Regions from separate parts of the Homo sapiens genome. Here all the other regions are linked to region 1. The links come from fine-mapping of genetic effects on gene expression. A gene starts in region 1. Each other region holds a variant in brackets. All regions are shown on one strand. Distances are from middle to middle. Region 1 holds the start of PRPSAP1 (phosphoribosyl pyrophosphate synthetase associated protein 1). Region 2 holds the start of ACOX1 (acyl-CoA oxidase 1). Region 3 overlaps PRPSAP1 (phosphoribosyl pyrophosphate synthetase associated protein 1). Region 4 overlaps UBE2O (ubiquitin conjugating enzyme E2 O).

The links. PIP is the estimated chance that this variant, and not a neighbour inherited with it, causes the effect.
Region 2: its variant is fine-mapped to the expression of PRPSAP1 in ovary (GTEx, PIP 0.94).
Region 3: its variant is fine-mapped to the expression of PRPSAP1 in cerebellum (GTEx, PIP above 0.99). The same link has a PIP of 0.9 or more in cerebellar hemisphere, cerebral cortex and prefrontal cortex.
Region 4: its variant is fine-mapped to the expression of PRPSAP1 in whole blood (TOPMed, PIP 0.95).

The regions. Positions count from the first base shown.
Region 1 is chr17:76,348,884-76,356,982 of GRCh38, forward strand. It overlaps PRPSAP1 (phosphoribosyl pyrophosphate synthetase associated protein 1), which reads right to left and starts at 5,033. Exons shown (of 10, transcript NM_002766.3): 1 at 4,651-5,033. The coding sequence starts at 4,820. RefSeq lists enhancers at 2,003-2,550, 4,090-4,149, 4,999-5,863, 5,110-5,379 and a silencer at 4,510-4,829.
Region 2 is chr17:75,974,186-75,982,285 of GRCh38, forward strand. ACOX1 (acyl-CoA oxidase 1) reads right to left here and starts at 4,981. Exons shown (of 14, transcript NM_004035.7): 1 at 4,780-4,981; 2 at 4,349-4,508. The coding sequence starts at 4,888. It overlaps TEN1 (TEN1 subunit of CST complex), which reads left to right and starts at 5,055. Exons shown (of 4, transcript NM_001113324.3): 1 at 5,055-5,326. TEN1-CDK3 (TEN1-CDK3 readthrough (NMD candidate)) reads left to right here and starts at 5,032. Exons shown (of 10, transcript NR_037709.1): 1 at 5,032-5,326. RefSeq lists enhancers at 4,155-4,738, 4,644-4,873, 4,739-5,322, 5,444-5,543 and a silencer at 4,954-5,023. The variant A/G (reference allele first, on the strand shown) is at 4,027.
Region 3 is chr17:76,308,973-76,317,072 of GRCh38, forward strand. It overlaps PRPSAP1 (phosphoribosyl pyrophosphate synthetase associated protein 1), which reads right to left. Exons shown (of 10, transcript NM_002766.3): 8 at 4,849-4,919; 9 at 3,898-4,044; 10 at 506-2,728. The coding sequence ends at 2,570. It also overlaps a transcript of QRICH2 not described here. Among named protein-coding and RNA genes, the nearest start is that of QRICH2, 4.7 kb to the left of the region's middle. The variant T/A (reference allele first, on the strand shown) is at 4,231.
Region 4 is chr17:76,400,733-76,408,832 of GRCh38, forward strand. UBE2O (ubiquitin conjugating enzyme E2 O) reads right to left here. Exons shown (of 18, transcript NM_022066.4): 2 at 4,781-4,840; 3 at 4,474-4,584; 4 at 1,870-1,967; 5 at 1,332-1,395; 6 at 279-422. Among named protein-coding and RNA genes, the nearest start is that of SPHK1, 20 kb to the left of the region's middle. The variant C/T (reference allele first, on the strand shown) is at 4,708.

The sequences.
Region 1 (8,099 bases):
ATGATTTCAATAACACACACCAGAGATAAATGCCTCAATTATCAAAAGCATAGAGAAGGAAAGAGGCTTCAGCACTCTGACCAAATGTGGTGTGGATCTTGTTTGGATCCTAATTAGAATAAACCAAGTGTAAAAAGCCATTTTTGGCCAGGCGTGGTGGCTGATGCCTGTAATCCCAGCACTTTGGGAGGCCAAGGCGGGCGGATCACCTGAGGTCGGGAGTTTGAGACCAGCCTGACCAACATGGAGAAACCCCGTCTAAAATACAAAATCAGCTGGGCATGGTGGAGCATGCCTGTAATCTCAGCTACTAGGGAGGCTGAGGCAGGAGAATTGCTTGAACCCGGGAGGCGGAGGTTGTGGTGAGCCGAGATCGCGCCATTGCACTCCCGCCTGGGTAACAAGAGCAAAACTCCGTCTCAAAAAAAAAAAAAGCCATTTTAAAAAATAATCAGAGAAATATGGACAAAGACTAGATACTACATAATATTAAGGAATTAATAGTAGTGTGAGGTTTTAAGTCCTGATTAGTAAGCATTACTCTTTTTACAAGTGAAATGATATGATGTAAGATAATCTATTTAAAAATATTCCAGGCCGGGTGCGGTGGCTCACGTCTGCAATCCCAGCACTTTGGGAAGCTGAGGTGGGCGGATCACCTGAGGTCAGGAGTTCGAGACCAGCCTAACTAATATAATAAAACCCCATCTCTACTAAAAATACAAAAATTAGCTGGGTGTGGTGGCGAGCGTCTATAATCCCAGCTACTCAGGAGGCTGAGACAGGAGAATTGCCAGAATCCAGGAGGCAGAGGTTGCCGTGAGCCGAGATCACACCATCGCACTCCAGCCTCGGCAACAGGAGCGAAACTCCATCTCAAAAAATAATAATAAAAAAAATAAAATTAACATCTCCAGCCAGGCCAGGCGCAGTGGTTCATGCTTGTAATCTCAGCATTTTGGGAGGCCAAGGTGGGCAGAACACTTGAGGCCAGGAGTTCGAGACCCGCCTGGGCAACATGGAAAAACCCCATCTCTACTAAAAACACAAAAATTAGCTGGGTGTGGTGGTGGGCACCTGTAATCCCAGTTACTTGGGAGCTGAGGCACGAGAATCACTTGAACCTGGGAGGCGGGGGCTGCAGTGAGCCAAGATTGTGCCACTGCACTCCAGCCTGGGTGACTTTATCTCAAAAAAAAAAAACAACAAAACTCCAGCCAGGTATACACATACAATGGAATATTATTTGGCCTTAAAAAAAGAATAAATTCTGCAGCCAGGCGCAGTGGCTCATGCCTGTAATCCCAGCACTTTGGGAGGCCGAGGCGGGCGGATCACGAGGTCAGGAGATCGAGACCACCCTGGCTAACACGGTGAAACCCCATCTCTACTAAAAATACAAAAAATTAGCCGGGCGTGGTGGAGGGCGCCTGTAGTCCCAGCTACTCGGGAGGCTGAGGCAGGGGAATGGCGTGAACCCAGGGGGCGGAGCTTACAGTGAGCAGAGATCGTGCCACTGCACTCCAGCCTGTGCGACAGAGTGAGATTCCGTCTCAAAAAAAAAAAAAGAATAAATTCTGGTACGTGCTATGACATGAGGGAGCCTTGGACAAGGTATGCTGAGGAAAATAAGCCAGACACAGACAAACGCTATGATTCTATTTGTATGAAGTCCCAAGAATAGGCAATTCATAGAGACAAAGTAGAATGGAGGCTACCAGGGAATGGGGACTTAGTATTTAATGGGTACAGAGTTTCTGTTTGGGATGATGAAAAGTTCTGGAAATGAATAGTGGTGATGGTTGTGCAACACTGTGAATGTAGTTAAAGCCACTGAAGTGTACACTTAAAAATGGTTAAAAAGGTAGGCCAGGCACAGTGGCTCATGCCTGTAAAGGCGGCACTTCGGGAGGCCAAGGTAGGTGGATCACCTGAAGTTGGGAGTTTGAGACCAGCCTGACCAACATGGAGAAACCCCGTCTCTACTAAAAACACAAAATTAGCGGGGTGTGGTGGTGCAGCCTGTAATCCCAGCTACTTGGGAGGCTGAGGCAGGAGAATCACTTGAACTCGGGAGGCGGAGGTTGTGGGTGAGCCAAGATGGCTCTATTGCACTCCAGCCTGGGCAACAAGAGCAAAACTTCGTCTCAAAAACAAACAAACAAACAAAAAACGGTTAAAAAGGTAAACTTTATGTTATGTATATAACAATTTTTAAAAATACTCCAGGTGGGCCGGGCGCAGTAGCTCACGCCTATAATCCCAGATCGTCTGAGGTCAGGAGTTTGAGACCAGCCTGGCCAACGTGGTGAAACCCATCTCTACTAAAAATACAAAAACTAGCCAGGTGTGGCCGGGCGCGGTGGCTCACGCCTGTAATCCCAGCACTTTGGGAGGCCGAGGCGAGTGGATCACGAGGTCAGGAGATTGAGACCAACCTGGCTAACACAGTGAAACCCGTCTCTACTAAAAATACAAAAAATTAGCTGTGCGAGGTGGCGGGGGCCTGTAGTCCCAGCTACTCGGAAGGCTGAGGCAGGAGAATGGCGTGAACCCTGGGGGCGTAGCCTGCAGTGAGCCGAGATCGCGCCACTGCACTCCAGCCTGGGCGACAGCGAGACTCCGTCTCAAAACAAAAAACAAAAAACAAAAAACTAGCCAGGTGTGGTGTCGGGCATCTGTGATCCCAGCTACTTTCGAGGCTGAGGCAGGAGAATCGCTTGAACTTGGGACGTGGAGGTTGCAGTAAGCCGAGATGGCACCACTGCACTCCAGCCTGGGTGACACAAGACTGTCTCAAAATAAATAAAACAGATAAGATAAAACAAAATCTTACTGAGCGACAAGTAAAACAGGTAAGGGAAGTATTTATGAATATGTATCATTTATAGTAATTCAAAATCTTTCGGGAATTTGCCAGGAAAGAATCTAAAACAAACAAACAAAAAAAACCCTCACTGACTTTTAAAATGTGCCCTGCTCCCCTCTGCTCTCCCTCAAGGTCAGGTAGGGTAAATCTGAACCACTAGATACACACAGAAGCTTCGTTTAAAGTCAGTGTTTTCGTTGGCCTCAGAAAGAAAGACAAACAATCAGGGGTTAGAAATAGAAACTAGGTAGTAGACTGCAAAAGGATTGATTTGTTTTTTTAACATTCTTCCACTCTCCAAAACTCCAACTATTAAAAAAAAAAACAAGCAGAGCTGAAAAAAAAATGACTAAAGTTTTCCCTTTCTTCTACATTTCCCCCCAGAAGTTTAAGATATATCCCTGCAATCATTTGTCAACCCTAAAAAAGTAACGAAGTAACTCTATGAAAACTGTTTAAAATGTGAAAATGGCTTTAAATATTAAAAGACGAGCTATTCATTTTATGTCTTAGATTTCTAACAAGTGTATGTAGAAAGGGCATATAAGGCTCCTCCTTTATATCAGAGCTCTGGGATTCTCCAAAAGAGCCAACTAGAAAAGAGGCCATTTCACCGGGCGCGGTGGCTGAAGCCTGTAATCCCAGCACTTTGGGAGGCCGAGGCGGGCGGATCACGAGGTCAGAAGATCGAAACCATCCTGGCTAACACGGTGAAACCCAGTCTCTACTAAAAATACAAAAAATGAGCCGGGTGTGGTGGCGGGTGCCTGTAGTCCCAGCTACTTGGGAGGCTGGGGCAGGACAATGGCGTGAACCCGGGAGGCGGAGCTTGCAGTGAGCCGAGATCTCGCCACTGCACTCCAGCCTGGGTGACAGAGCGAGACTCCGTCTCAAAAAAAAAAAAAAAAAAAAAAAGAAAAGAAAAAGAAAAAGAAAAGAGGCCACTTAGTAAACAACTATTCAGAGGGCCACTATGAGCCCCTACTCTGCTAGAACCAGATACTACTTCTACATTATCCCGATCATACAATATTCTCAACCATGCCCATTTCACAGATGAGGTTCAGGGAAATCAAGTCTCTTGCCCACTGACACAGAGCTAGTAAGTGGCAAGGCTGGGAGGGCATCTCAGAGCTGTCAGACCCCAAAGGCGACTTAAGACCAGGGGCTTGGTTGGGTTAAAGACACAAATGACTGATCTTATCCCAAGCTGATTTACAAAGCAGGGTCAGGCCTGTCATTTCTACCACCAGCTCCGGCCCATCTGCCTCCCTGGAATTGCCTTCTTCGCACTGCCAGTCCCCACACCTTTGCTCTGCGACCGCACCTGCCGCGTCGGATCCCCCAACTCACAACCACGCCCGCGGGTCTCACTGCAGTGAGACTTGAGAGTGGCGGCGGTCAGATTCCCAGGTCAACTCCAGCCGTGGGAAAGGAAGCCAAGCCCTGAGCCCCTTTCCCCAAGACACGCACTCCGGGGCTCCAGAAAGCTCGGCCCGCCCCGGGGTGTGGGACTGCGGAGACGAAAGGCAGGCAGGCCGCGGACCCAGTCACGGGGCGGGGGGCTGAGGTCACCGAGAGTCCGCCCCAAGCCTCCCAGCTGCAAAACCGGGGAGCGGGGGGCGGTATCCGTCACCTCCAAGCTTTGTCCGGCTGGGAAGGCCCGCGCCTCCCGCCCCAGGTGCAGGAGGTGGGGCGGGTGGAGGGGAGCGGGTCCCTCCGGGCGCGAAGGAGAGCTAGGCGCCGCCGCCCCCGGCCCGGCCCTCCCACCGCCCCCTTACTCTGTGATGCGCTTGGCCAGCTCCGTGCAGGCGGCCGTGGAGTTGGCCGAGAAGACTCGGTAGCCGGTGCGAGCGGCGTTCATGGCCGGCGGGGGAACGGGGCGGGCGCGCGGGACGCGGAAAGCCGAGGACGCGGAGGGCGGGGGCAACAGCAGCAGCTTCTTGGGCATCGTCCGGCCCGCGGCGCGGTTACGACCGGCCCCGCGCGGGGCTGCACTCTGAGTGCTTCCGACTGCGAGACCCCGGTTTGGGTGGGGAAGGCGCTGAGAAACTCGGCGCAAGCGGGGAGAGCTCCGAGGTCCGTGCCCTTGCGCACCCCACACCACTGACTACAGCGGCCGAGCCTTCGCAGCGCCCGGCGCCGCCGCCTCAGAGCCAGAGGCAAGGCCACCGCCCCCTCCGGGCATCCGAAGAGCGTCGGCTAGAGCGCCCTCAGGCCGCCATCTCGGATGAGGGCAGGGAGCCTGGCGACTCTCTAAAAGCCTGTTCTTCCGAGGGGCATGTCACAGGTTCGCCCCGCCCCTGCTTTGACCGCTTCCACGGGAGCTCTTTCGGTCTCACTTTCTTGGGAGGAGCAGCCTACCTCGGTAGTGGCCCCAGGTGTTTCCAACTTTTTGGCCAGGACCCAACATGTCCGCCTCCGAGGAGGTATACGATCTAGCTCTGCATGTCTATGGTAGCACAGCGCCCGCCCCACGAGGCGCGTGCGCCGGCCGGAGATTAATTTGAAAAGTAGAGGGCGGGGGTTCTTTCCAGCTGGTTGACCGCAGTACTGAAGCGGCCAAAAAGTGGTCTTCTCCTGAGCCTGATCTTTCAGGCGTTTCCGAACAGATCCCCAACCCTGTGTCTGCGTGTAAGGCAAGGTTCCCTGAACGTGCCAAAGGCCCTCTTGCCGGTATTCGCTTTCAATCAAAAAAGCCCTCCTTCTCCTCTTTCCATATGCGCCACCCCTCCGAGACCCACTCGCGATGCGTCTGTTCCACAGTCTTTCTGGTGACCTCAACCACAGTAAGCCGCCCGGCCCGCGGGACTGTGCCACACGTAGATGCTTGCATTTTTTAAATTTTTGTTGTTGTTGTTATTGTTTTGATGCTTGCATATTTATGTACCTTTGCAAACATCTATTTTCCTAACTAGGATGTAACCCATTTTACGGCCACATCGTGAGTTCCTTTTTTTTTTTTTTAATTTTATTATTATTTATTTATTTTTTGAAATAGGGTCTCCCTCTGCCGCCCAGGCTGGAGTGCAGTGGCGCGATCACGGCTCACTGCAGCCTCTACCTCCCGGGCTCAAGCCATCCTCCTACCTCAGTCATTCAAAATGCCGACATTACAGGCCTCAGCCATCACGCCCCGCCAAGATCGTGTATTCCTGAGTGCTCCGTGTTACCCAGTGTATAGGGCAGTGTGTGGGCTCCAGAGGCCCGCAATCAGTACTTGTTGAAGTAGAAAGTAAAGCCCAGGGAAGCATTTGAGATCTCTAGTTATCAGCTGCACCAGAACTCGAGGGGAGGAGAGGTGCCTCTCACATTGACAGTACCATCTTCTGAGAATGTCCTTTAGAGACTCTGCTTGTGGTGACATTGGGCTTGAGGGAGCAGTAGATTGTGACTCAGCATGTCGTGAAGGACCACAAGTCTGAAGCTACAGGATTTGGAAGTTGAGCTGCCCTGAGCCTGCAGCAGCCTGGCCCCTATTCCAATAGCTCTCTAGAAAAAAAAAAAAAAAAAAAAAGGACAGTGGGTGCACAGCCTAGGCCAAATTATTTAACCACTGCACACATGTCCAGCTCACAGACCCTGACAAAAACCTTGTTACCTTCTTAAAAAAAAGGGGGAATGGGATAGGTGCAGTAGCTCATGCCTGTAATCCCAGCACTTTGGGAGGCCGAGGCGGATGATAGTTTGAGGTCAGGAGTTCAAGACCAGCCTGGGCAACATGGCGAAACCCAATCTGTACTAAAAATACAAAAATTAGCCAGGTGTTGGCTGAGCGTGGTGGCTCACTCCTTTAATCCCAGCACTTTGGGAGGCTGAGGTGGGTGGATCACCTGAGGTCAGGAGTTTGAGACAAGCCTGGCCAAGGTGGCAAAACACTGTCTCTACTAAAAATGCAAAAATTAGGCTGGGCACGGTGGCTCATGCCTGTAATCCCAGCACTTTGGGAGGCTATGGTGGGTGGATCACGAGGTCAGGAATTCGATACCAGCCTGGCCAACATGGTGAAACCCTGTCTCTACTAATAATACAAAAAATTAGCCAGATGTGGCCGGGCGCGGTGGCTCACGCCTGTAATCCCAGCACTTTGAGAGGCTGAGGCGGGCGGATCACAAGGTCAGGAGATCGAGACCATCCTGGCTAACACGGTGAAACCCCATCTCTACTAAAAATACAAAAAATTAGCCGGGCGCAGTGGCGGGCGCCTGTAGTCCCAGCTACTCGGGAGGCTGAGGCAGGAGAATGGCGTGAACCCGGGAGGCGGAGCTTGCAGTGAGCTGACATTGTGCCACTGAACTCCAGCCTGGACGACCGGGCGAGGGCGCGACTCTGTCTCAAAAAAAAAAAAAAAAAATCAGCCAGATGTGGTGGCGCGGTGGCACACACCTGTAATCCCACCTACTCAAGAGGCTGAGGCAGGAGAACCGCTTGAGCTCGGGAGGCGGAGGTTGCAGTGAGCTGAGATCAGGCCACTGCACTCCATCCTGGGCAACACAGCAAGACTCCATCTCTCTCTCATACACACACACACACACACACACACACACACACACACAATTAGCCAGGTGTGGTGGCAGGCAACTGTAATCCCAGTTACTTGGGAGGCTAAGGCAGGAGAATCGCTTGAACCTGGGAGGCGGAGGTTGTAGTGAGCCGAGATTGTGCCAGCCTGGGCAACAGAGTGAGACCTCCTCTCAAAAAAAAAAAAAAAAAAAAAAAACAGGTTGGGCACGGTGGCTCACGCCTGCAATCCCAGCACTTTGGGTGGCCGAGGTGGGCAGATCACGAGGTCAGGAGATTGAGACCATCCTGGTCAACATGCTTAAACCCCATCTCTACTAAAAATACAAAAATTAGCCGGGGGTGGTGGCGCGCCTGTGGTCCCAGCTACTCGGGAGGCTGGGGCAGGAGAATCACTTGAACCCAGGAGGTGGAGATTTCAGTGAGCCAAGATCAAGCCACTGCACTCCAGCCTGGCAACAGAGCGAGACTCCATCTCAAAAAAAAAAAATTAGCCAGATGTGGTGGCACATGCCTGTAGTCCCTTCTACTCCGGAGGCTGAGGCAGAAGAATCACTTGAATCCAGGAGGCAGAGGTTGCAGTGAGCCGAGATCGTGCCACTGCACTCTAGCCTGGGCAACAGAGTGAGTCTCTGTCTCAATAACAACAATAAAAAGTTAATCAGCCTATAGCCCCAGCTACTTGGGAGGATGAGGCAGGAGGATCCCT
Region 2 (8,100 bases), 370 kb before region 1:
TCAAAGAGCAAAAATAACTCCATAGAACACTTATTTATAGCGCTGTTAACAAGAGCTCCAAGGAAGAAATAATTTCAACTATGTTTCCCTAGATAATATAAGCAAATATCCAAAAGAGTAAATACATATTCCAGGGCAGAATCATACATCGCTAAAGGTCTTCAGGGTTTACAATAAGTAATGTGGGCATGTAAAAATTTATCCCCAATGGTCAATGAACATTACTACGGATTAACTCTACATCACATTGAAATTTAGTCCTCAACTCTCTTCTTACAAAACAGAATCCACAGTAGTTGGCCTTGGCTGTGCTGTGTCATAGATTTTATAGGGATCAATTTTGTACTTTGACAAAGCTCGTATCTAAAAAGTTTAAAGTACAAAATACATCTCATCTAACTGATCTTCACGACTTCTCAACACATGATTAGGAAGCAATGTTACTACCAGTTTATCCTAACCTGTGCAATGAGCAGAGCATGAACTAAAGGACAGAAGGGATAGGCTGCCATTGCAGTGCTGGGGGACCCTGAAACCAAACTACCACCTTAAAAGAAATAATAGTAGCCGGGCGCGGTGGCTCACGCCTGTAATCCCAGCACGTTGGGAGGCCAAGGCGGGTGGATCACGAGGTCAGGAGATCGAGACCATCAGATCGAGACCATCCTGGCTAACATGGTGAAACCCCGTCTCTACGAAAAATACAAAAAAAAAATTAGCCGGGTGTGGTGGTGGGCTCCTGTAGTCCCAGCTACTCAGGAGGCTGAGGCGGGAGAATGGCGTGAACCCGGGAGGCGGAGCTTGTAGTGAGCCGAGATCGCACCACTGCACTCCAGCCTGGGCGACAGAGCGAGACTCTGTCTCCAAAAAAAAAAAAAAAAAAAAAAAGAAAGAAAGAAAGAAATAATAGTAAACACAATATACCCTTATTTTTCTATTTCCTAAATAAGTACTACACGGTTATCCCCGCCATTTCTTTTTTTTTCTTTTTTGGAGACAGTCTCCCTCTGTTGCCCAGGCTGGAGTACAGTGGTGTGATCCCAGCTCACGGCAACCTCTGCCTCCTAGGTTCAAGTGATTCTCATGCCTCAGCCTCCCAAGTAGCTGGGATTATAGGCGTGTGCCACCAAGCCCGGTTAATTTTGTATTTTAGTAGAGAAGGCGTTTTGCCATGTTGGCCAGGCTGGTCATGAAGTGGCCTGGCCTCAAGTGATCTGCCCACCTCAGCCACCCAAAGTGCTGGGATTACAGGCGTGAGCCACCATGCCCCAGTCCCATTGTCTTTTCTATCTTACATAAATCATAATCCACTTAGAAACAAAAAACTCTCAACATGGATGCTCTTAGATACGAATATTTCTAATTAATCAAAATGAATTAATGTAATCATTATAGATTCCACCAGAGGGAACGACTTCTGCGTCCTAATCATGTGTTTAGAAGCTGCTCATTAACATCAGTTAAAAATGTTTTCTCAGCCAGGCGCAGTGGCTTATGCCTGTAATCCCAGCATTTTGGGAGGAAGGGGCGGGTGGATCACAAGGCCAGGAGTTCGAGACCAGCCTGGCCAACATGGTGAAACCCCATTTCTACTAAAAATACAAAAGTTAGCTGGGTGAGGTGGCAGATGCCTCTTCACCTGCTGATAATGGAAATAAATGGAAATGCAGAGAGAGAGAGAGAGAGAGAAAGAAAGAGAGAGAAAGAAAAAGAAAGAGGAAGAGAAAGAGAAAGAAAAAGAAAGGAAAAGAAAGAAAAGAAAAGAAAGAAAGAAAGAAAAGAAAAGAAAGAAAGGTGATGTATTTCACAATTAATAGCATGTCACGGTTAACTGGCAGCATTCTTTCTTTCTTAGTGGTACACAAAACACTGGTGTGAGTTATAATCGATGAGATTATATAACCGAGGCTTTAACTCGATAGCATGCGATAATTTCCAGGACTCATTTACAAACCCCTTCTCTTACTTAAAAACTGATCTCCTTGTCATATCCTAAGGACATTGGAAGTGTGTCAAAGGGTGTGTTAAAGTTTGTACTTTAATACTTCACATGAAAAATGATACACAAAACAACTTCCCGGTGTCCATGAATCTTTAACCCGCATAAAAGACTTTGTTCTATTTCATTGTGACCTCACTCGAGTCTGGTTCACATTATCAACAGGTCACAGGTTATGAAATCATCTCTATCAGCTTTGAAATGCACTGCACCACCCATTCAAACACACACACACACACTCAACCCACTTTTTTCCTGACGTTTCAAGAAGGAATAAAATCTTACTAATTTTTTCAAATTTACAAACACAACACAGGTATCAGTAACATAATCTTCTAGGAGGAGTTACTCTATCTCAATATCCCCACAGCCATGAGTTACAAACTTCAAAAACAAAACAGACCATTTGGAAGTATGCTGATTTGAACTACCAAAAATAAATAAACAAAATTTTTTCGTTTAAAACTGAGTGGAGCTCTGAGGAAAGTCCAAAGTGCCAGAGTAAACCATTTCATCTTCACAAAAATAACCCAAGTCAAGCTGAAAATCGATACCAAAGGCACTAGAGGCAGTGACCATTATTACCATAAAGGCAGAACGTGCAACATGTTCTATTTAGCTTGGTTCTAGTCTATACACCACTCATACGATTTAGTCTTTACCGATGAAAATACTGGAGTTCCTTTAAAATGGAGAAACCTAAAAGAGAAAATGCCCAGGAATAAATGAGAAAAAAATGCTATAGGCCAAAATAATCTTGTACTAGGATCATGTAATAGTGTTTGTTTAGGTTAAGGCAAAAAAGTCTTTTTTTTTTTTTTTTTTTTTTTTGAGACAGAGTCTCTCTTTGTTGCCCAGTCTGGAGTGCAGTGGCGTGATCTCGGCTCAGTGCAGCCTTTGCCTCCCAGGTTCAAGGGATTCTCCTGCCTCAGCCTCCTGAATAGCTGGGACCCCAGAAGCGCACCACCAGGCCCGGCTAATTTTTGTATTTTTAGTAGAGAGAGTTTCACCATTTTGGCCAGGCTGGTCTCGAGCTCCTGGCCTCAAGTGATCCACCTGCCTTGGCTTCCCAAAGTGCTGAGATTACAGGCATGAGCCACTGTGCCCGGCCCGAAGTCCTTATTTTTATTTATTTTTACCGTTCCTTGTGGAGCAGGGTGGATCACGAGGTGAGGAGTTTGAGACCAGCCTGGCAACATGGCGAAACCCCATCTCTACTAAAAATACAAAAATTAGCCGGGTGTGGTGGCGGGCGCCTGTAATCCCAGCTACTCAGGAGGCTGAAGCAGGAGAATCGCTTGAATCCGGGAGGTGGAGGCTGGAGTGAGCCGAGATCGTGCCACTGCACTGCAGCCTGGGCGACAGAGCGAGACTCCGTCTCAAAAAACAAAAACAAAAACAAAAAACACAACAAAACACATGGTCTGAAAAAAGGATATACTCTCTTCCACACTAGAACCAAGGCAGGTTTTTATGACGTCTCTCTCATATGCACAAGACAACCATTCAAGCACTGTCATGGATTCAGAACTACTGGGTTCTTAGACTTTCTATTCATTCAGAGGCGTCACAGATCATTCTTCATCCAGGTCCACACTACCATATAATATAATCTGCTATTGCTCCAAAATATTTAAATGGTCGTGCAACTAAAAAAAAAAATGCTCCCAGATTCAGAATTTTAGCAGTCCTCCTTACAAAGAGCAAAATGATTCTGCATTTAAATCAGTCAAATTTGAGTTGCTTGGGCAGAACAATGCTTTTACAACATCCTTGAAACTGTACTCTTGAGAACAAAAACTCCTGCATTTCCATTTATTATCAGCATTCTACAAACACGTCATCCCACGAAAAGGCTTGGATACAAAAGTGATCACATTATTTTTCACACATATAACTTTATTTATTTATTTATTTATTTATTTTTTGAGATGGAGTCTCGCACTCTTGCCCAGGCTGGAGTGCAGTGGCGCGATCTCGGCTCACTGCAAGCTCCGCCTCCCTAGTTCACGCTATTCTCCTGCCTC[A/G]GCCTCCCGAGTAGCTGGAACTACAGGCGCCCGCCACCACGCCCGGCTAATTTTTGTATTTTCAGTAGAGATGGGGTTTCACCGTGTTAGCCAGAATGGTCTCGATCTCCTGACTTGGTGATCCGCCCGCCTCGGCCTCCCAAAGTGCTGGGATTACAGGCGTGAGCCACCGCGCCCGGCCACACATATAACTTTATAAAGTTGCATGAAAATATGCCAGTTTGCATCTTCAAACACCAAGCACGGTGATGAAAGGCCACCATAGACCGCAGCTGTAAAGTTTAGGCTTAACAACACTTGCTCTGTTCTAAGGCATACCTACTTTTTAAACCACATAATTTCATCAGGGTCAGCGATGCCAAACTCCCTCATCTTCTTCACCATGATGGCACTTTTCCTGACAGCCACCTCATAACGCTGGCTGCGAGTGAGGAAGTTCAAGTCCTCATGCTGGAAGTCTGGGTCGTTCAGGATCATGTTCTCTGAAAGGGGGTTAAAGGGCATTAAAAGGCAGACAGACACTCGGGCCTCCGTTCCACCCTCCCTGAATCACAATAGGCTTCAGAGTCGCGGACACACCTGGGGAATGGCGATATCCCCCCACCAGGGACACAGGCTGTTCCTCGAAGTGGGGGTCCCGGCTCCCCTAACGCTGGGCCAGAGGGCCTAGGCCCCACAGCGCCCCTGACTCCGCATCGAGGGAGTCTCCAGCTTTTCTCGGGAAAGGAGGGAGGTCTCGCCCGCCGCCCTCACCGATCTCTCGGCGGCGCCGGGTTTTCTCGGGGCTGCCGTCCAGGATGTGTGTAAGCAGCTCCGGGTTGAAGCTGGCGGAATCCCGCTCCCTGCGCAGGTCCGGGTTCATGGCGACGACCAGCTGGCAGCGAAGTAAGCACCGACCGAGGTGGCAGTGACAATCTAAATCCGCAGCTCCAGCGCCGGCCGGACCCTAGGAGGCAGCCTCAGGACGGCGCAAGTCCCCGCCTCCGCTCGCCCGGCCCGCCCCGGCCCGCCCCTTCTTTCTCCGTGGCCCTTTGGCGCGTGAGTGACAGCGGCCCAGACAGAGGGGGCGATGTCCGCGTCGTGGCTGGGGCCGGTCGCGGGGCAGACTAATCCCCTGCTCCTGGCCAGGGGAGGCTCCCGAGCGGATCCTCGGGAAAGGGGCTCCGAAGGTCAAGAAACTGCCCTGCTGGGCGTCCGGGGAGTGGGAAAATAAAGCACTTTTTGTATCCCGCCCCTCCCCCGTCACGTGACCACGCGAGGCGGAAAGAAGAAATCCGAGGACCGGCGACGCCTAGAACAGGTTGGCTGGGGCCTTGGGAAGGGGGCGGGACAACGAGGCTGAGGAGGGATTGCGCCTGCACTTGCCCCCCTCTTACCCCGCGGCCTCTGTCACGCTTCCGGGTCCGTGCCCCTAGGCCTCTCCGAAATGAGAGTGGTCGGGAGACTCTGGAGTCTGGGGCGGGAGATGGGGCTTTGCGGAATTGCTAGGGAGGGTCACTTGGGCTTTTGCCAAATCCACCCGGATTGGAGAAGAATGGGACGGGAACCAGTCTCTTTGGGGAGAGGCTCCAGTTACCTTTTGTTAAGATAATGGCGTCTTTACTGGCAGAGGCGTGGGTTCCGGGGCCCTGGGTGTGGGATTGTGAGCGCTGTTCAAGGGGTGGACGGGGACTTAGAATGAGACCAAGCGGGCGGTGCTGCTCTAAGCCTTCTGTCTGGGAAACCAGACATTTTCCCCCGCAACCTGGCAGTTACTAGAGGTCTTGGAATCCAGACTTCTTTGCTTTCGCCATCACCGTCATCAAAGTGGGAAATGCACACTTACTGTTAAAACCTAGTGTAGGGCCGGGCGCGGTGGCTCACGCCTGGAATCCCAGCACTTTGGGAGGACGAGGCGGGCGTATCACTTGAGCCCAGGAGTTCAAGACCAGCCTGGGCAACATGGCAAAACCCCATCCCTACAAAAAATACCAAAAAATTAGCTGGGTGTAGTGGCATGCGCCTGTAGTCCCAGCTACTCTGAAGGCTGAGATGGGATGGTGGCTTGAGCCCCGGAGGTGGAGGTTGCGGTGAGCCAAGATTGTGACATTGCACTCCATCCTGGGCAACATAGTGAGACCCTGTCTCTACAGAAAAAAAACAAAAAACAAAAACAGTTCTGCCCAGTGGGATTGTAGACAAGGGAGATTCAGGGATTTGTTGAATCATCTCTAGTCATTTTTTTTTTTTTTCTTGAGACGGAGTCTCGCTCTGTCGCCCAGGCTGCAGTGTGGTGGTATGATCTCAGCTCATTGCAACCTCCACCCCCTGGGTTCAAGCGATTCTCCTATCTCAGCCTCCCGAGTAGCTGGGATTATAGGGGCTCGCCACCACACCCAGCTAATTGTATTTTTAGTAGAGACAGGATTTTGCCATGTTGGCCAGGCTGGTCTCGAATTCCTGACCTGTTGATCCACCTGCCTCGGCCTCCCAAAGCGCCGGGATTACAGGCGTGAGCCGCTGCGCCTAGCCTGTCTGTAGTCTGTGTAATACTATGACTTTGGTTTTCTCAGAAGTAAAACTACGAGAGATGCATAACATTCATAATTTGAATAATAGAACTATAATACACACTCTTAACCCCTAGGACCTCAGGATCCTCATTTGTCTTATTAAGCTGCTGATCTCAGGCCCCTTCAACAGCAGAGAGGGTGTCTAGTTTATTCTCTGTACCTGGCACAGTGCCTGCCCCGCTAAAGGTGCTCAGGAAATCTTTGTGGAGTGAACAAATGGCTGCTTGACAGCTGACCTTCTAGTTCTAATATTCTAGGAAACCAATTGCTCTTAATGTAACAATGATAAGGGGTGTACTTAGCATTGAATAGAAAAGACTTAGATGAAGAGCTAAATTTGCTGAGTTTTTATTTTGAAATAATTTCAAATTTACACGAGAATTACAAGAATAGAACAAAGAACTTTTCTTCTGTGACTTTAACGCTTTTTTTTTTTCTTTTGAGATGATGTCTTCCTCTGTCACCCAGGCTGGAGTGCAGTTGCATGATTTCAGCTCACTGCAACCTCCGCCTCCTGGGTTCAAATGATTCTCATGCCTCAGCCTCCAGAGTAGCTGGGACTACAGGAATGTACTACCACACTTGGCTAATTTTTGTGTCTTTATTAGAGGCAGGGTTTCACTATGTTGACCAGGCTGGTCTCCAACTCCTGGCCTCATGTGATCCGCTCGCCTCAGCCTTCCAAAGTGCTGAGATTACAGGCGTGAGCCACTGCGCCTGGCTGGCTGACATTAACACTTTTGAAGTGTATAAGCCCATTGTTTTGTAGTGTTGGGTCTCAGAAAACAATACCCCAAAATGAAGGCCTCAGAAGCAACCCACAAAGCAAGTTGTTTTTTTTTTTTTTTTTACCTTCTGTCCTCCTCTCCCTCAGGTGCATTCTCCCCCGAGCCTAGCCAGAGAAGTTAGAATCCTCTTCCCCAAGGCAGGTCATAGAAAACAGAGTCATTTACCCCCAAAGCCAGCCATAAAACCCTAAATATAAGCTGGGTGCGGTGGCTCACGCCTATAATCCTGGCACTTTGGGAGGCCAAGGCAGGTGGATAGCGAGGTCAGGAGATCGAGACCATCCTGGCTAACACGGTGAAACCCCGTCTCTACTAAAAATACAAAAAAAGCCGAGCGAGGTGCCATGTGCCTGTAGTCCCGGCTACTCGGGAGTCTGAGGCAGGAGAATCGCTTGAACCGGGGAGGCAGAGGTTGCAGTGAGCCGAGATTGCACCACTGCATTCCAGCCTGGGCGACAGAGTGAGACTCTGTCTCAAAAAACAAACAAAAAAAACCCTAAATATATTACTCTTAACTTTCCCTCCTTCTTTTGGTGTAAAAACTGGCCAAAAAGAAATTATCTGACCTAGCTTGTTTGACTGTAGGCCATAAGACTCCATTCCAGAGAGGGTCCTCCCCCACACCCAGAAGGAAGGAATGCCTGTTCCAAGAGGCCAAGAAGAATCTAGACAGACAGGCCTTGCTGGGCCTCCCCACTCAGTCTATCAGCATTAGATCATACCTTTTATGTTCA
Region 3 (8,100 bases), 40 kb before region 1:
CCGACCTCAAGTGATCGACCCACCTCGGCCTCCCAAAGTGCTGGGATTACAGGTGTAAGCCACCGCGCCCAGCCTGCCATAAATTAATTGATCTCAAAAAAACGGCCAGGCTTGGTGGCTCACACCTGTAATCCCAGCACTTTGGGAGGCCGAGGCGGGTGGATCACCTGAGGTAAGGGGTTCAAGGCCAGCCTAGCCAACATAGTGAAACCCCTCTGCTAAAAATACAAAAAATTAGCCGGGCATGGTACCGCGCATCTGTAATCCCAGCTACTCGGGAGGCTGAGGCAGGAGAATCGCGTCAACCCGGGAGGCAGAGGTTGCAGTGAGCCAAGATCGCACCACTGCACCCCAGCCTGGGCGACAGTGCAAGACTCTGTCTCAAAAAAAAAAAAAAAGAAAAGAAAAGAAACCACTCACCTGGTCAAGCGCCTGTGCTTGAGCTCATTACAAAGCAGGATTAAACAGCACGAGACAAATCTGGTGTTAACAATTGAGACATGACTTCCCCATACAAGATTCTTCCCAAAAACGTATAAATAAAACTTCCTAACAGAAGCACAGCAAGGCTACTTAAAGAGAACCTATGAATGTGTGCCATGCATGGCCAGCCTCCTCCGTGAGCTCTGCATCTGCAGATTTAACCAACCACGACTGAACACGTACAGATTCCTGTCATGATTCTCTAAATAATACAGCATGACCACCATCTACACAGGATATTGCAGTAGGTATTACAAGTCATCCAGGATGTGCATAGCTTATATGCAGATACTACACCATTTTCTATCAGGGACTTGCACATCCATGGGCAGGAGGTTGAGTCCTGGAACCAATCACCCATGGATTGTAAGGAATAACTGTACTATTTTAACTACTGTTCAAGTTCAGATTTTTCACTTCAGCCTGAGAGGTACTGTTTATTTAATTGAAGGATTTTCGATCATCATTATATTCCAATAACTTGGGACACAGTAGGCCTTTAAGGGGTTATCAAAATAACTAGTTCTTTGCAGTCTTTTTTTTTTTTTGAGATGGAATCTTGCTCTGTCACTTGGGCTGGAGTGCAGTGGCACAATCTCAGCTCACTGCAATCTCTGCCTCTTGGGTTCAACCAATTAATTCTCCTGCCTCAGCCTCCCGAGTAGCTGGGATTACAGGCGTGCACCCCCTCCCCCAACACCCGGCTAATTTTTGTATTTTTAGTAGGGACAGGGTTTCACCATATTGGCCAGGCTGGTCTCAAACTCCTGACCTCAAGTGATCTGCCCACCTCGGCCTCCCAAAGTGCTGGGATTACAGGCGTGAGCCATGATGCCTGGCCTCTTTGTAGTCTTTTTATGCTTTTAACTTAGCTAGGCTAATTTTTGTATTTTTAGTAGAGACGGGGTTTTGCCATGTTGGCCAGGCTGGTCTCAAACTCCTGACCTCAGGTGATCTACCTGCCTCGGCCTCCCAAAGTGCAGGGATTACAGGCATAAGACACGATCCCTGGCCTGTTTTTTTTTTTTGAGACAGGGTGTTGCTCTGTCACCCAGGATGGATGGCAGTGGTACAATCATAGTTCACTGCAGCTTCAACCTCCTTGGCTCAGGCAATCCTCCCACCTCAGCCTCCCAAGGTAGCTGGAACTACAGGCACATGCTACCAATGCCTGGCTAATTTTTGTATTTTTTGTAGACATGGGGGTTTCGCCATGTTTCCCAGGCTGGTCTGAAACTCCTGGGCTCAAGCAATCCTCCTTGCCTCAGCCTCCCAAAGTACTCAGATTATAGGTGTGAGCCACCACACCTAGACTTTTTTTTTTTTTTTTTAAAGATTTAAAATACAGTATTCAACAAGGATTTAGCTTCAACACTTAGGAAGAGGGTGGAACCTGGGAAAGTGTTTGTGTCCAGCCACAGACCTGACTGCTGTTCTGTATCCATGGTCTTCTGCTGTCTAATGAAAAGACTAGCAAGACAACAAATTATTTTATTTGCAACTTCAGAGCCACTCAGATACCCAGAGGTGGGATGCTATTTTCTAATCTGACATCCTTGGAAGATGTAACAACATGAATGCTTCATTTTTCAATGGCTGTAGGCATAACAATTTCTGAAAGAAAAATACGATTCTCTATAAAAGACTTGAAGTTGATTTGGGAGAGGCCAACTGGATAGTAATAGGGCCACAGGCGCTCAGCTTCCCTAACCAGGTTCAACATCAATACCTCCATTTCCCTGGAGCTGAAACAACTAAATGAACATTATAGAGTTAAGACTTTATGTGCCTTTAACTCCTCTTTAGTATCAATAAGATTTTCAGATTATTTTTAAGAAAGCAGCTAGAACTTTTAAGGAACAGGGCTGATGACAGCAGACATGTAAGGCCATGTTATGATATTTATCCATTAGCTCTGTCTTCTTCCTGACTCTTTTAATCCCTCCTCCCCATCAATCCGGGCAAAAGAAGATATCTAACTCCAGGCTGTTTCGAGTCCTCCCTTGCAAGGAAACACTGTATCACTCATGGCACTGCTTTTTCCATGTTTCCCTCAGGAGGTCCAGGGTCGAGACCCTCGTGAAAGCTAGTCATCCACAGTGATGTTTCGGAAAAGGTAGGCCATGGACTCTCCATTGTGGATTCTCCGAATGGCTTCAGAAAGAATCAAACTGATATCCACAGTCTTTATCTTGGGACATTGCAGCTTCTGAACCTCATGAGGGACAGTATTCGTCACCACCACCTAGTCACACAGTGATGGAAAACAAACGCTGTTACTGAAGTCTGTTCTCCAAGCTGGTTACACAGAAAAGCTTATCTAACATTGAGTTCCCACAGCCTAAGTTCCAAACTACAAAACCTTGTTCCACCGAGTATAGTTTTTATAAACCAAAATTAACTAATTTTATGCAAAGGAAAAGTTACATGGCCTCAGAACACAAGACAAAAATCTTAGGAATGGCATGGTCTCCATGCAGAAACACAGTGAGCCCCAGTGCTATGCAAAACTCTCAGATCATAAGGGAAGAATTCCAGCCTCAAGAGAAATGCTCCTAGGGTGTCAAATTAAAGTACCCAAGCAAACCGTTATGCAAATAGACATATACAGACCCTCAACATAACTCTCAACTTATGACAGGGTTATGTCTGGATAAACGCATCATTATAAGTTGAAAATATTTTAAGTAGAAAATGCATTTAGGCCGGGCACAGTGGCTCATGCTTGTAATCCTAGCACTTTGGGAGGCCGAGGCAGGTGGATCACCTGAGGTCAGGAGTTTGAGACCAGCCTGGCCAACATGGTGAAACCCCGTTTCTAAGAAAAACACAAAAATTAGGCCTGGTGGCCGGCGCGTGTAATCCCAGTTACTTGGGAGACTGAGACAGGAGAATCGTTTGAACCCGGGAGGCAGAGGTTGCAGTGAGCCGAGATTGCCACACTGCACTCCCAGCCTAGGCAACAGAGCAAGATTCCATCTCAAAAAAAAAAAAAAGCATTTAATACGCCTAACCTACTAAACATCATTAACTTGGCCTAGCCCTACCTTAAACATGCCCAGAACAGTTACATTAGACTGCAGGTGGCAAAATCATCTAGGGCAAAGGCTTTCATTTTATAATAAAAGCGATTATTTTAAAATAAAGTGTCTCAAGTAATTTATCGAATACTATACATTACATCGTAATTGCAATGGTTTTGCATCATCATAAAGTCAAAAACTTCTAAGTTGAACCATGGTAAGTCGTGGACTATCTGTATTCCTAAACATGTATCTGTCCCAACGAACTGCTAGCCAGCAAAAGCTAGAAAAGCTATAGACAGATTAAGCAATTTAGTATTGACTGAATCATTTTATTATTCCCAGAAAACACAGCAGTAAATCTTGGCTCAAGATTTAGAAGCAGCCTGACCTCGTCTACGGAGGACTCCTCAATCAGGCGAGGGGCCTCTGCAGACAGGATGCCGTGGGTGGCCATAACATAGATCTTATAGGCGCCTCTCTCTTTCAGGATCTCCGCGGCAGCAACAAAACTCTCCACATCGTCAATAATGTCATCCTGGGAGGAGAACAGAGTGAGTTGGTAGGAAAGAAACACCCTCTAGCCCATACTGTCAATGCACACACCACTCTACTCTCTTCTGCACTCAGTTTCAGAGGATTTCTGATGGAAAATCAGAGCTGTGTGCCTGGGTCAAAGAACGAGCATCCAGAAATGGCAACAGAAGCACCTGACAGTACCTTG[T/A]GTGTCTGTCAGAGGCGGGCGCAGTCAAGCACCTGTGACATTACGGCTGGAGCTGAGGATTGCCAACACTCATTTTCCTGTCTCACGTTTCTGGTGAATCCCACATAGCCAGCGTTCCATTTATTTTTTTTTCAAATAGACTGTGACATGAGAAGAAAACTGAAATAAAGTGTGCTACTGCAAAGGACTCATGACCCACTAGCCAGCAGATATTTAGAGCTGGGAAAAAAAGTATGTCAACATGCAGAACGAGTCTGCACGGGGACACCCATTCTTACTTGTGAAAACGGAACAGCTCATCTTCAGTTCATCTTTCGGCCCTAACGCTCAAGCATGATTAGGTGAGCTGGTTTAAAGAACCTAGAATCCACATGATGAAGGTGAAGGTGCTGAATTTTCTCACGGGAGTACTGTGCTCATTTCCTATCTGTAGGTTATACTTTAATGTATGTTCACCTGGATACAGGTTTCTGCCACTTGGCACAAGGGAGTTTGGGTGAGAAAGGATACATGGATCCATTCGGATCATCGTTCCTAGAAATACAGTCCCAGAGTGGACAACCTACTGACCAAGAGCCAGGAGTGCCACCTCTGCACATGGATGACATATAACCATACCACGATGATTGCGATGCGGCCTCCAACATCTCCAACTACAGTTATCGGTGGCTTCTCTTTGGCCATCATCACTAGCAAAACAAAACAAATTACAAGATCTCAGTCATTCATGTATCACTAGAGAAATGTAATCACAACCTAATTCCCTGGAAATGGTGGCAAAACCACTATACAGACAAAAAACAAACAAACCATGCAAATTCCCCCTCAATGAACCTGCAATCTCTCAGAAACAGCAGCATTGGCCAAAAGAAATAGAAGGCATGCCATACATGTTACTTTGAATTTTCTAGTAGCCACATTAAAAACAGATGAAATTAATACATTTTATTTTATGCAATTCCCAAAATATTATAATTTCAACATGTAACTGATATAAAAATGTATGTATGTATGTATGTATGTATGTATTTTTTGAGACGGAGTTTTGCTCTTGTTGCCCAGGCTGGAGTGCAATGACGCGATCTTGGCTCACTGCAACCTCCGCCTCCCAGGTTCAAGCAATTCTGCCTCAGCCTCCCGAGTAGCTGGGATTATAGGCATGCGCCACCACACCCAGCTGAGTTTTGTATTTTTAGTAGAGATGGGGTTTCTCCACGTTGGTCAGGCTGGTCTCGAACTCCTGACCTCAGGTGATCCACCCGCCTCAGCCTCCCAAAGTGCTGGGATTACAAGCTTGAGCCACCACGCCCAACCTGATATAAAAATTAATGAGATGTTTTACACTTTTTTTTCTCAGAGGGGATCTTGCTATGTTGCCCCGGCTCATTTCAAACTGGAAGCAAACAATCCTCCTACCTCAGCCTCCCAAAGTGCTAGGATTATAGGCATGAGCCACCGCACCCAGCCTTACACTTTTTTCCTATCAAGTCTTCTCTACTTGGTGTGTGTTTTATACGCACAGCACTTCTCAGTTGAGACGGGCCGTGTCTCATGAGCTCAGCAGCCAGCACATTGCACTGCACAGCACAGCTGGAAAGACAACGAACCAGCAGAGCATGGAAGATTCTGCCAACACGGAGAAGCTGCACCGCAGTGCTGTGTGGATAGAAACCCCACTCTCACAGAGACTGACAGAGACATGCAGAAGGAATGCCGCTCTGCAGAAAGCGAAACAGCGAAAGGCTGCCAGATCATGAGATGGCTTTATGTTATTTTCTTCCAAAGTCACCTTATTTGGACAGTGTAACCTTACTATCAGATAACTGCACTACTGACATAATCAGAGTTTCCTCAAAATCAGGAACTTGAAGACAATAACTCCAGGCCCATCATCTTTTCCTGATTTAATTGGTGCTTAAAGTAGAGACTTTTATCTGACTGCAAAATCTGCATCTGAAGAAAGGCTATGAGTGTACAAAGGAAACTACAGGATAAAGAAAGGAAATAAGATTTTATCCTCAAAAGGAGGTTAGTAAACAGAGAAGAAAAACAAAGACTACTTCAGAAGAACAGGCTAAGTATTCTTTCTTTAAACTTTGTTATTATTCTGAAATATTTATTAGGCTAGTAGTGGGGGAAGCGAAAGAGAATAAAATTCAGGGTAACAAGAGTTTAGTGACTACCAACAAACAATTTTTGCAGATTCCCAACAGGCACTGTGTATCTCAAAGAACAGGTGTTTTTCTCTGTATACTGGCAAATCAGTTGAGCTGAAATTCACCACTACTTTATACATTTCAACAAACATATATTTCCTGATTTCACATCCTAGAAACAAAGACAACTTCTTGAATTTGGGCAAGACAAGAAGGCTTTGCATATAAAATCACTTAAAATGGGGGGAGGGGGGTTTCAAACCACCAACATTAGGAGCAGCTTCCTGAGATTCTGTTTTTAAATTAAACCATGTAAACACGCAGTTATGTTGACCTATCCGCTTTTTTTTTTTTTTTTTTTTTTTTTTTTTCTTGAGACAGAGTCTCACTCTGTCTCCCAGGCTGGAGTGCAGTGGCACGATCTCGGCTCACTGCAACCTCTGCCTCCTGGGCTCAAGCGATTCTCCTGCTTCAGCCTCCTAAGTAGCTGGGATTACAGGCACGTGCCACCACATCTGGCTAATTTTTTGTATTTTTAGCAGAGGTGGGGTTTCACCACGTTGGCCAGGCCACCTTTGAGAGGCCAAGGCAGGCGGATCACCTGAGGTCAGGAGTTCAAGACCAGCCTGGCCAACATGGTGAAACTCTGTCTCTACTAAAAATATAAAAATTAGCCAGGCATGGTGGCACACGCCTGTAATCCTAGCTACTCAGGAGACTGAAACAAGACTTGCTTGAACCCAGGAGGCAAAGGTTGCAGTGAATTGAGATCGCACCACTGCACACCAGCCTGGGCAACAGAGTGAGACTCCGTCTAAAAAAAAAAAAAAAAAGAAAAAAAAAAAGAAAGATTGCAAGCCAATACCTCTCATCAAATATCAATGGAAATTCAGCTCTAGTTTGATGCGGAAAACATCACAGTATATTTGTTTACTTTTTTGCAACCCTACCTCCCACAAAGAACTACTGTTAGTTTCGCATGAAAAACCTAGGCTCTGCTAGGAGGGAGGCTAAAAAAGGCTAAAATGAAAGCCTTTCTGCCCAATATACTCATTCCCTGCTGATACTGCCTTTAGGTTCTGAATAAAAGTGAACACATAATCTGGTGGCTGCCACAAAACAGAGACAGACTTTATTATTACAGGGTAGAAAAAAATGACTAGTACCTCACAGGCCAACAGTTTTTGAATAGCTTACCCAAAAAATAAAACACTAAAAATTCCAGTTTTCATACAAGGTCAAGAATAGAGTGCTAAAACTACCCTAAGTTTAGATTCTGCTCTCTCTTTCCATTTTATCAAACAAAATCTAATCCATGAATAAAATGAATTGTGCAACATTACTTGCGGCCAGAAATCACTGTGAAAACTACATCAGCTGCAGTGAAAATGTTTCCAATTCATCAAACGATTTCCAATGCTCTTATGAAGGATGTAGGAAGTTGTCTTTTGCTTTTAAAGGTAGCCTTTTCCAAGTAAAATAAAGCTGCACTGACAACCCTCCTTACCTTACGCACGCTTCCATCACAAGTACAAGCACCTGCACACATGTGCACACATTTACTCTTTCCTGGGAGCCAATTAACCAAACCTTCCTCTGCTAAAGTAAACAGCAAAAAAGAACTATGAGAAAATTCATTCCTTACCCATTTTGACCTTTGTCTATTTCTAGTTCAATGAAATGTCAAACCATATCAACAAACTGACATTAAAAA
Region 4 (8,100 bases), 52 kb after region 1:
AGTGTCACTGCTCATACCAGCCAGGGGCCACTGGAACTGCCACTTGCCACCCTCCCACCTTGCTCAGCCTGTACAGGCTGGGCTGGGGCACATCTGTCTTTTGGTCACTATGACCAGAGCCTGGGTTCCCTTTATCCCCAAAGCCCTTTGAGATCAACAGGGTCCAGATGCTGAGGAGCGGGGCTCAACCCTCAAGAGCAGGAAGGAAAGGGGCAGCAGCTCAGCTCCAGGGTGTGGAGGTCAAGGACTCCATCTCCTACCCTTGGGCCCGGACCCACCTCTTCCACCACCACTCGGAACTTGCTCTTGGTGCTGAGCACGGGCTTGACACCTGACAGCCACTGGACGCTGGAGAAGATCTTGGCAGGGCCAATGAGCACCTGGCCTGGGTAGAAGCCATAGGAATCATCGAAGAAGAGACCCTGCGGGATGTGGGGCCAAAGGAAAGTCCCCGTGAGCGGTGTCTCCATGGGTGACCATGCTCTCCACGCCTGTGCCCGCTGGCTGCCCACCTGCAGAAGCCCACTCACACACACGCCCCACACGCCCTAAAACAAGTCCTGTGGCTCCACATCAGCACTTCCCAAACCCTGGGTCCGCAGAGGTCATCTGGCGCCCTTGTTCAAACATAGGTGATGCATTCCATGCTCCTTGGTCAAGGGCTCATACTCTGAGGAATAAGACTCCAGAGAGCAGTGGTCCTGAAACCTGTTTGCTCACGCACCCCCTGTATATCTACTTGTTTGCTGTGTGTGTCCATGTACTATTGTAACTAACACATCATCCTGTACTGAGAGAGACAAAGTGGAACCTTAAAGGATGAGAAAAAAAAGCTACCAAAAATGCAAATAAAAGTTCTAATACTGCCGGGCGCGGTGGCTCACGCCTGTAATCCCAGCACTTTGGGAGGCTGTGGGCAGATCACCCGAGGTCAAGAGTTCGAGACCAGCCTGGCCAACATGGTGAAACCTCATCTCCACTAAAAATACAAAAATTAGACGGGTGTGGTGGCACACGCCTGTAATCCCAGCTACTCGGGAGGCTGAGGCCAAAGAATCACTTGAACCCGGGAGGTGGAGGTTGCAGTGAGCCGAGATCGCACCGTTGCACTCCAGCCTGGGCGACAGTGAGACTCTGTCTCAAAAAAAAAAAAAAAAAAAAAAGTTCTAATACTTTCTGCCTATACCCAAACTTTTAGACCCTCTGGCGCGCACCCGCCCCTTTTCTAGGAAACCGCTCTGTTTAGCTGGGTCCAGGTCTTTGCTACGAAGTCCTCCTTCCAGAGGACTGAGCAATCAGAGAAGGGTGCTGGCCTGGATGGAGCACACTACCGAGTCGCTGACGTGCGGGCAGACGTCGTAGAGCTTGGCGCCATCTTCCGTGTTCATGGAGCACCTAAAACAGAGAACAGAGGTTTGGTCTCCACCAGGGGACACAGTGAGTACCAAAAAGTTGCGATTCTGAGATGCCAATGCGCCCACATGCCCTAAATAGCACAATTCGTCTTCTACCATCAACTCAGCCCGAGGTAGTACAAGAAACTCTCCCACAACGAACAAGACCCCAAGTGCCACTGGAGTGCTTGCTCAGCACCATCACAGTGCCTCAAGTAAAGCATCAGCCTCTAGCAGATATCCTCAGTGAAAACGTTTCTCCCCATGCCAGGACAGATCAGAAACTGAGCAACAGAAATAGGCCACGGCAGATAAGGAGAACGGTACAGGGTTAGGCCCTGGATGCCTGCAACATCTGTCACTGCCCTTGATCAAACCTGTCATCACTGTCCCCAGGAGGAAACACCCTCCTCCTCCCCTCTTTCCAAGAGGCTATCCTTCCCAAGCCGATGGCTCTCTGGTGGTGAGACTCTACCTGGCGCCGTTGGATAGCTTCAGGATGATCTGGTTCTTCAAGTCGTAGACCTTCCCCAGCCAGCAGTCATAGGCAATGTAGTCCCCATACATGAAGGGCTGCAGACCAAGGAGGCAGGGGCAGTGAGACACAGCAGACAACGTTCATGTCCAGGGCACAGATTCCTCTATGCCCCACCGAAGACAGGATGGGGGAGGATCTAGACAGCTCACTGACTGGACCGGTTGGCTACTAGCCCTAAACAGCTGCTGCAGCAGGCCCTCCCTACAAGTTCTAGGCTGCATCCCAGCTGCTCTTCCCAGTGAGGAGGAAGTGGTGGTGGTGGTGGGGCTGCCTGGAGGGAACGGGGTGGGTGATGCAGGGGCAGAGAGGCCTGATGGCATCCATGGACATGGGACATCCATGGACACAGGACACCTGGCAAAGTAGGCTGTGGAGGTGGCAGGCAGAGGAGGCAGCCACACCACTGGGGGGTGGCTACATGGACAGTGCTCTGAGTAAATACGTTAACACATCAAGGATATCGAGAGCCAAGTCCCTCATTGTTGGAGAAGGTGCCCAGGTGTTTACTAACAGAAAGGGAGCAGGAAGGAGAAGAAGGAAGAGGAGTCTGAGGTGTTTAGGTGGAAGTGGATCTATCAGGATGAACTCATATATTTTATTTTACTTTATTATTATTTTTTTTAGAGACAGGGTCTTGCTCTATTGCCCAGGCTGGAGTGCAATGGTGTGATCTTGGCTTAATGCAACCTCCATCTTTGGGCTCAAGCGACTCTCCCACCTCAGTCTTCTGAGTAGCTGGGACTACAGGCATGCATCACCGTGCCTGGCCAATTTTTTCATATATTTTGGTTGAGATGGGGTTTCGCCATGTTGCCCAAGCTGGTCTTAAACTCTTGAGCTCAAGTGATCCATCTGCCTCAGCCTCTCAAAGTGTTGGGATTACAGGGGTGAGCCACTGCGCCCGTGAACTCTGCCTGAACTCATATATTTTAATATACACATAGAGCAGGTAGTGACATATTTAGATGTGTGTATACATATAATACATATGTATTTCCTAGTGTGTCCCAAAAGAGCCAAGTAGCAATTAGCACACCTAGCATCCAGATCTTGGGTTTTAAAAATACCATTCTCTGAAAACAATGAGGCTTCTTGGAGAAATGGTTGATTCTGGGGCTGGATCACAAAAAGTACAAGATGAGCCTGGCACATCTCATGCCAGAAAGAAAGAAAGTTCTTAAAAAACCAACAAAAAGGGCCATGTGAGAAGGACATGAAAGCCAGCTTGAAGGGGTTCCCACTGGCTAAATCTGGGACCATCCAAGCAACAGAACAGATAATAGTAGTAATTAATTATAACCAATGAATAAAACAGAAATCTCTAAGTCCATACTGATAAAAAAAAAGAATACATAAATAGGGCAGAAGATAAAGCTCTTCTACAGAGCAGAATGCCAGCTAAAAGAAATGAGGGGAACAAGGGAGTCATAGAACCACCATTTAGCAACATCAGAGCAATGGCTGGCGCAGGGGGAACTGTGAATGGAGGCCAAAGCTGGTGGATTTCAGTTTGACAAATGACAGGTTATAGACATAATCTGGGACTACGTTCCCACAAAATACAATCACTTAAAGGGGGTAAATGGTGAGTTTATGGTGGAGAGACCTGGTGGACACCAACATGACCAGGGGTAAAAGTGAACAACCCCAGCACTTTGGCTATGGGGTACCATGAACCAGGGCAGAGCTCTGCGGCGGGCCTGCCAAGAACACGTGGGCATGAGGCAACACCAGGAAGACCCAGGCTGAGGGTCAAATTACTGAATGTATCACTGTTCAGGGCATGGAAGACAAAGAAAGGCTGGGAAGCGATTCCAGATTGGAGAGAAAATGAAGAGATGACAACTCAATGCAAGATGTGTTCCTGAATTGGGTCCTGGATCCGCAAAGAAGAAAAGAGTAGTGTTGGGACAACTGCATGTGGTCTGTGGACTGGACAGTAATTATCAACGTTGATTTCCCAATCTGGGGGTTATATGGTGGTTGCACAGGAGGCTGTCCTCATTTTTGGAAAACACACAAGAGGTGTGTGTATTCCGGGGTGGGTGACAGGGCATCACATCTATAGCTTGCTGTCAAATGTTTTGGGAAGAAAAAAGACCGGAGGGGGATCTCGGGGAAAAGGAGGGAGGGAAGGTGATGGAGCAAACGAAGTGAAATCTTAACAGCTGAGGAACCTGGATGGAGGGACACAGGAATTTACAACTTTTGGTAAGTTTGAAATCATTAAAAAAATAAACTATTTCCAATAATTTATTTTTTTAAAGAAATGTTAGAGGAGAAAGGAAAAACACTTAAAGATAACCACACTGGCAGCCTATGCTGGGGTTGGGGAAGGGCACGTCCTGACCTCATGTCTAAATGGCTTACTTGAAAGCAGCGAAAACAAGGCTACAGGAGCCAGCTGGCTGCTGTGCTCCGCCTTCTGACCCAGGAAGGCTGTGCTTGGCAAGAGCACGGAGGAGGCTGTAGCCCAGAGGTCGTGCCGCCGAGAGAACCAGAGGGCCCAGAAAGGATGATGAGAAGACAGGGCCGGCTCACCCAGATGTGCTGCAGGTCCTTGCTGTTGACGGGATAGATGATGCAGTTGGTGCCGATGAGCTTGACGGCACAGTCGATGTTGACGTCGATCACCGTGCCACACTGACTGTCCTGGGGGAGGGAGGAGACATGCAAGTCCCGTGGTGCAGCAGCCCTGGTCACCAGGGGAGACCCAGCCCAGGCAACCCCAGCGCACCCCCTGCAGAGCTGGCCAGTTCTCCCACATGCAGAGTG[C/T]GAGGTGGGCAGGCTCAAGTCCCTAAGGTGGCTGCCCCCAGGCCCGGGGCTGGGGTGGGGACGCAGGACTCACGGTGGATCGCATGTGCCGGACCACATCTCGGGGCACCACAGAACGGTCCTCTAGTTTCAGCTGTAAAAGAAAATACAGGTGTGAGAGAATGGACTCTGAAGCCACCACAGAATACAGTTTTCTTCCAGCTTCTGAAGGAAAGCGTCACATCCACACTGCTAAGTGCACAAATCCTAAGCGTTTGGCTAGCAGTATCTTCACAGACCGCACACACCTCCGACCAGCACCCAGACCCACAGGCAGAGCGCGTCACGCCCACAGGCCTCCTGGGGCCCCTGTGGTCACTGTCTCACCCACCAGAGGCACTTGGCTTGCCGGAGGTAGCCTTCCTCACACTGAACAGTGCAGCTCAATGACAGATCACATAAGGCTGCACTTTAATGAAGGATTTAACAGCCCATTCTACAGAGAGCAAAACATTTGCTTTGCGTTCAATCTTTTTTCTGCCCTCTGCAAGTGCCTGCCCTAGCTGATCAGTGCTGAGGGAGAGTGGGCTGGGGGAGAAGCAGGACACTGGGCTGCGGTGGGTCACCCTGAAGCCTGGCTATCACCGGACACCATGTTCTAATCTGGGTTATCCTCCTGACCAGCTGCGGCCTGCACCTTATCTGCTGCGCTTGGAGCCCTGCAGGCTGCTAAGTAACCCTCAGGATGGTTGGCTCTTGGAGCCCGGCCAACTGCACGAGCACCTGATTGTCTCTTTACGCACAGCTGGCAGCGGCCACTGCCTCCTGCTGCTCCATCGCCCAAAAGCCCAGGCACGTGATGCTCCCACCAGGCCAGCCTGCGTCTTTTTTAGCTGGTTCCTCAAACCTGGGGCAGCTCCTCTATGGTTCTTCACTGGGTCATAATCATGGATGGGTCTCTGTGTGTGTCCACCTCCGAGACCCCAAACCACATGGCTGGAGAGCTGTTTCCTCAAATAGCCAACCAGACACTCCTCCGTGGTGGCCTCTCTTGACCTGGGGGCACTGAGAGGTCACCACCAAGAAAGGAGAACTGAGTCGCCGAAAAAGGAAGATACTGGCTCAAGGTCACTTAAATGCTGGCAATGACAACTAAAACAAACTCTGCTAGTAGAAGAACGTGACTCACAAAAAAAAAAAGGAAAGAAAAGCAATGAACCCCACCACCAACCAGCAGTGCAGAGAGTCCCATGGGAACTCATGAGCCCAAGTTGTTTTTTTTTTTTTTTTTTTTTTTTTGAGATGGAGTCTCGCTGTGTTGCCCAAACTGGAGTGCAATGGCGCAGTCTCGGCTCGCTGCAACCTTCGCCTCCCAGGTTCAAGCAATTCTCCCGTCTCAGCCTCCCGAGTAGGTGGGACTGCAGGCACGTGCCACCACGCCCGGCTAATTTTTGTATTTTTAGTAGAGATGGGGCTTCACCATGTTGGCCAGGCTGGTCTCGAACTCCTGACCTCGTGATCTGCCCACCTCAGCCTCCCAAAGTGCTGGGATTACAGGCGTGAGCCACTGCATCCAGGTATGAGCCTGTTTCAAATGACAACTTGCCCAGTCCTTAAACGCAGGGTTCTTGAGTCAGACACAGGAACGTCAGGCAAACCACTCCTGCCGACATGTGGAAGGAGAGATGATGGCAGCTGTCTCAGCATGGCTGAGGTGGAGTCACCAAGGCAGCGGACCGCAGGTGGCACATGGTGCACGGTACAGAGTAGGTGCTCAGCAAGGTCGGCAGCTGTGATCACTGGCCCTGTGAGCTGCAGGGTGAAGACCCCTGAAAGGTCAGGCTCTCCTTATCTCTGCTCCAAGACCCCAGGAGGCTGGAGAGGCATGCTGGCGTGACGGTGCCACTTTTCTAAATCAAAGAATATTCTGTGCCTGTAACCCTCTGTGCCCAAATCTCCACTCTGAGATACGGCATTTTTTTGTGCTGCCCCACCCTATCTTAATCCCCTGCTCCCATTTTAGACTTCAAAAAGCCACAATTGCTCCCAGAGAAGCCAGAAGCGGCAGGACAGGAGAATCCAATGCAAGGGGGGCTGCACCATGTGTGGCAGGAGGGCTGCCTCCACCACTTGGGGGTCCCTGAGAGAGCAGCCAGGAAAGGAGGAGAGAAGAACGCAGACACAGACCTAAATCAGTGCCGTCACTGATGAAACACCCTGTTCAGCCTAACAGCACCCTTGGGAGTGCAGGGGAAACCGAGGTGTCAACTCTGAGGCTGAAGCAGAAAAAAACAGCTGGTGAAAGCTGGCATCATGGCAAGGCCAGAGGCTGGCAGGGCAGGCAGTGCCCAGTGCTCCCAGGAGAGGGAGGCTGGCAGCAAATGCCATTCTTCCCGTGGGGTCTCCAGACAACAGCAGCTCCACCTCACCAGGATGCTGCCTCCAGGGGCTCTTCTGACCTTTCTATGACAAGGAGTTACATTTCTCCAAAGACCTGATGGTGCTGGGAGCAGAGTGGGAGCGACAAGGGGCTGGGGGATGGTAACATGGTGGCTACACTCCCTTCCACTGGGAATTAGAACCCAAGACAACGGCATGTGGAAGGACTTAGGATGACTTGGGAGGCTCTTGTGACTTTCCTTCCTAACTTCCTATACCCCACCCATACTGGGCACTGGCTTTCTCCAAATAAGCCCATACCCTCCCATCTGTGAGCCACTCCACTGAACAGTTACTTCCAAATGTCCTCCTCTCCCTGCCCCCGTATGCACAACCTGCTTCACAAAGCCTTTCAGTGCCCCCGTCAGGAAGGAACCGACGTGCTCCTGGCGAATGCAAGAGCTCTGGAGTTTTTCGCCTCATGCTAACCAGGTGCTTCCTACCTGGCAGACAGTTCTCCAAGCGTTTCACTGTCTTCGCCCATGAGGTGCTCCACAACCCATGAAGCACATCACTGCCATGCTCATTTTGCAGATACGCAAACTGAGACCAAGAGAAAATAAGCAACTCATTCAATGTCACAAGTAGTGGAGCTGGGACCTGAACGCAGGCAGTTTGGCTCCAGAGTCCATTCTCTTAACCAAATAAAAAGCTCATCTCTCCCCAGAGCTACAGAGACAGGGAAAGACTTCTGGCAGGTCTACACATTTAAAGACAGTGATTCTTCTGCTTATGAAAGAAAGAAAAACTCTCTTCATTTCTGAGGCAAGTGGAAGGCAGCAATGGTGGCCACTGACTGCGGATGCCTGCTAGGCACAGTTTGCCCTCCACTTCCCCTTCTACCTCCAAAGAGCAAATGACAGGTGCCAGCCGGCCTGGCAGGTGAACACTAGAGGGCACTGTGCCCACTCTGGGAAAGCACCAGATTTGTGAACAAAACTAAACCTTGGAATAAACCCAATCCCTACTGTTAAG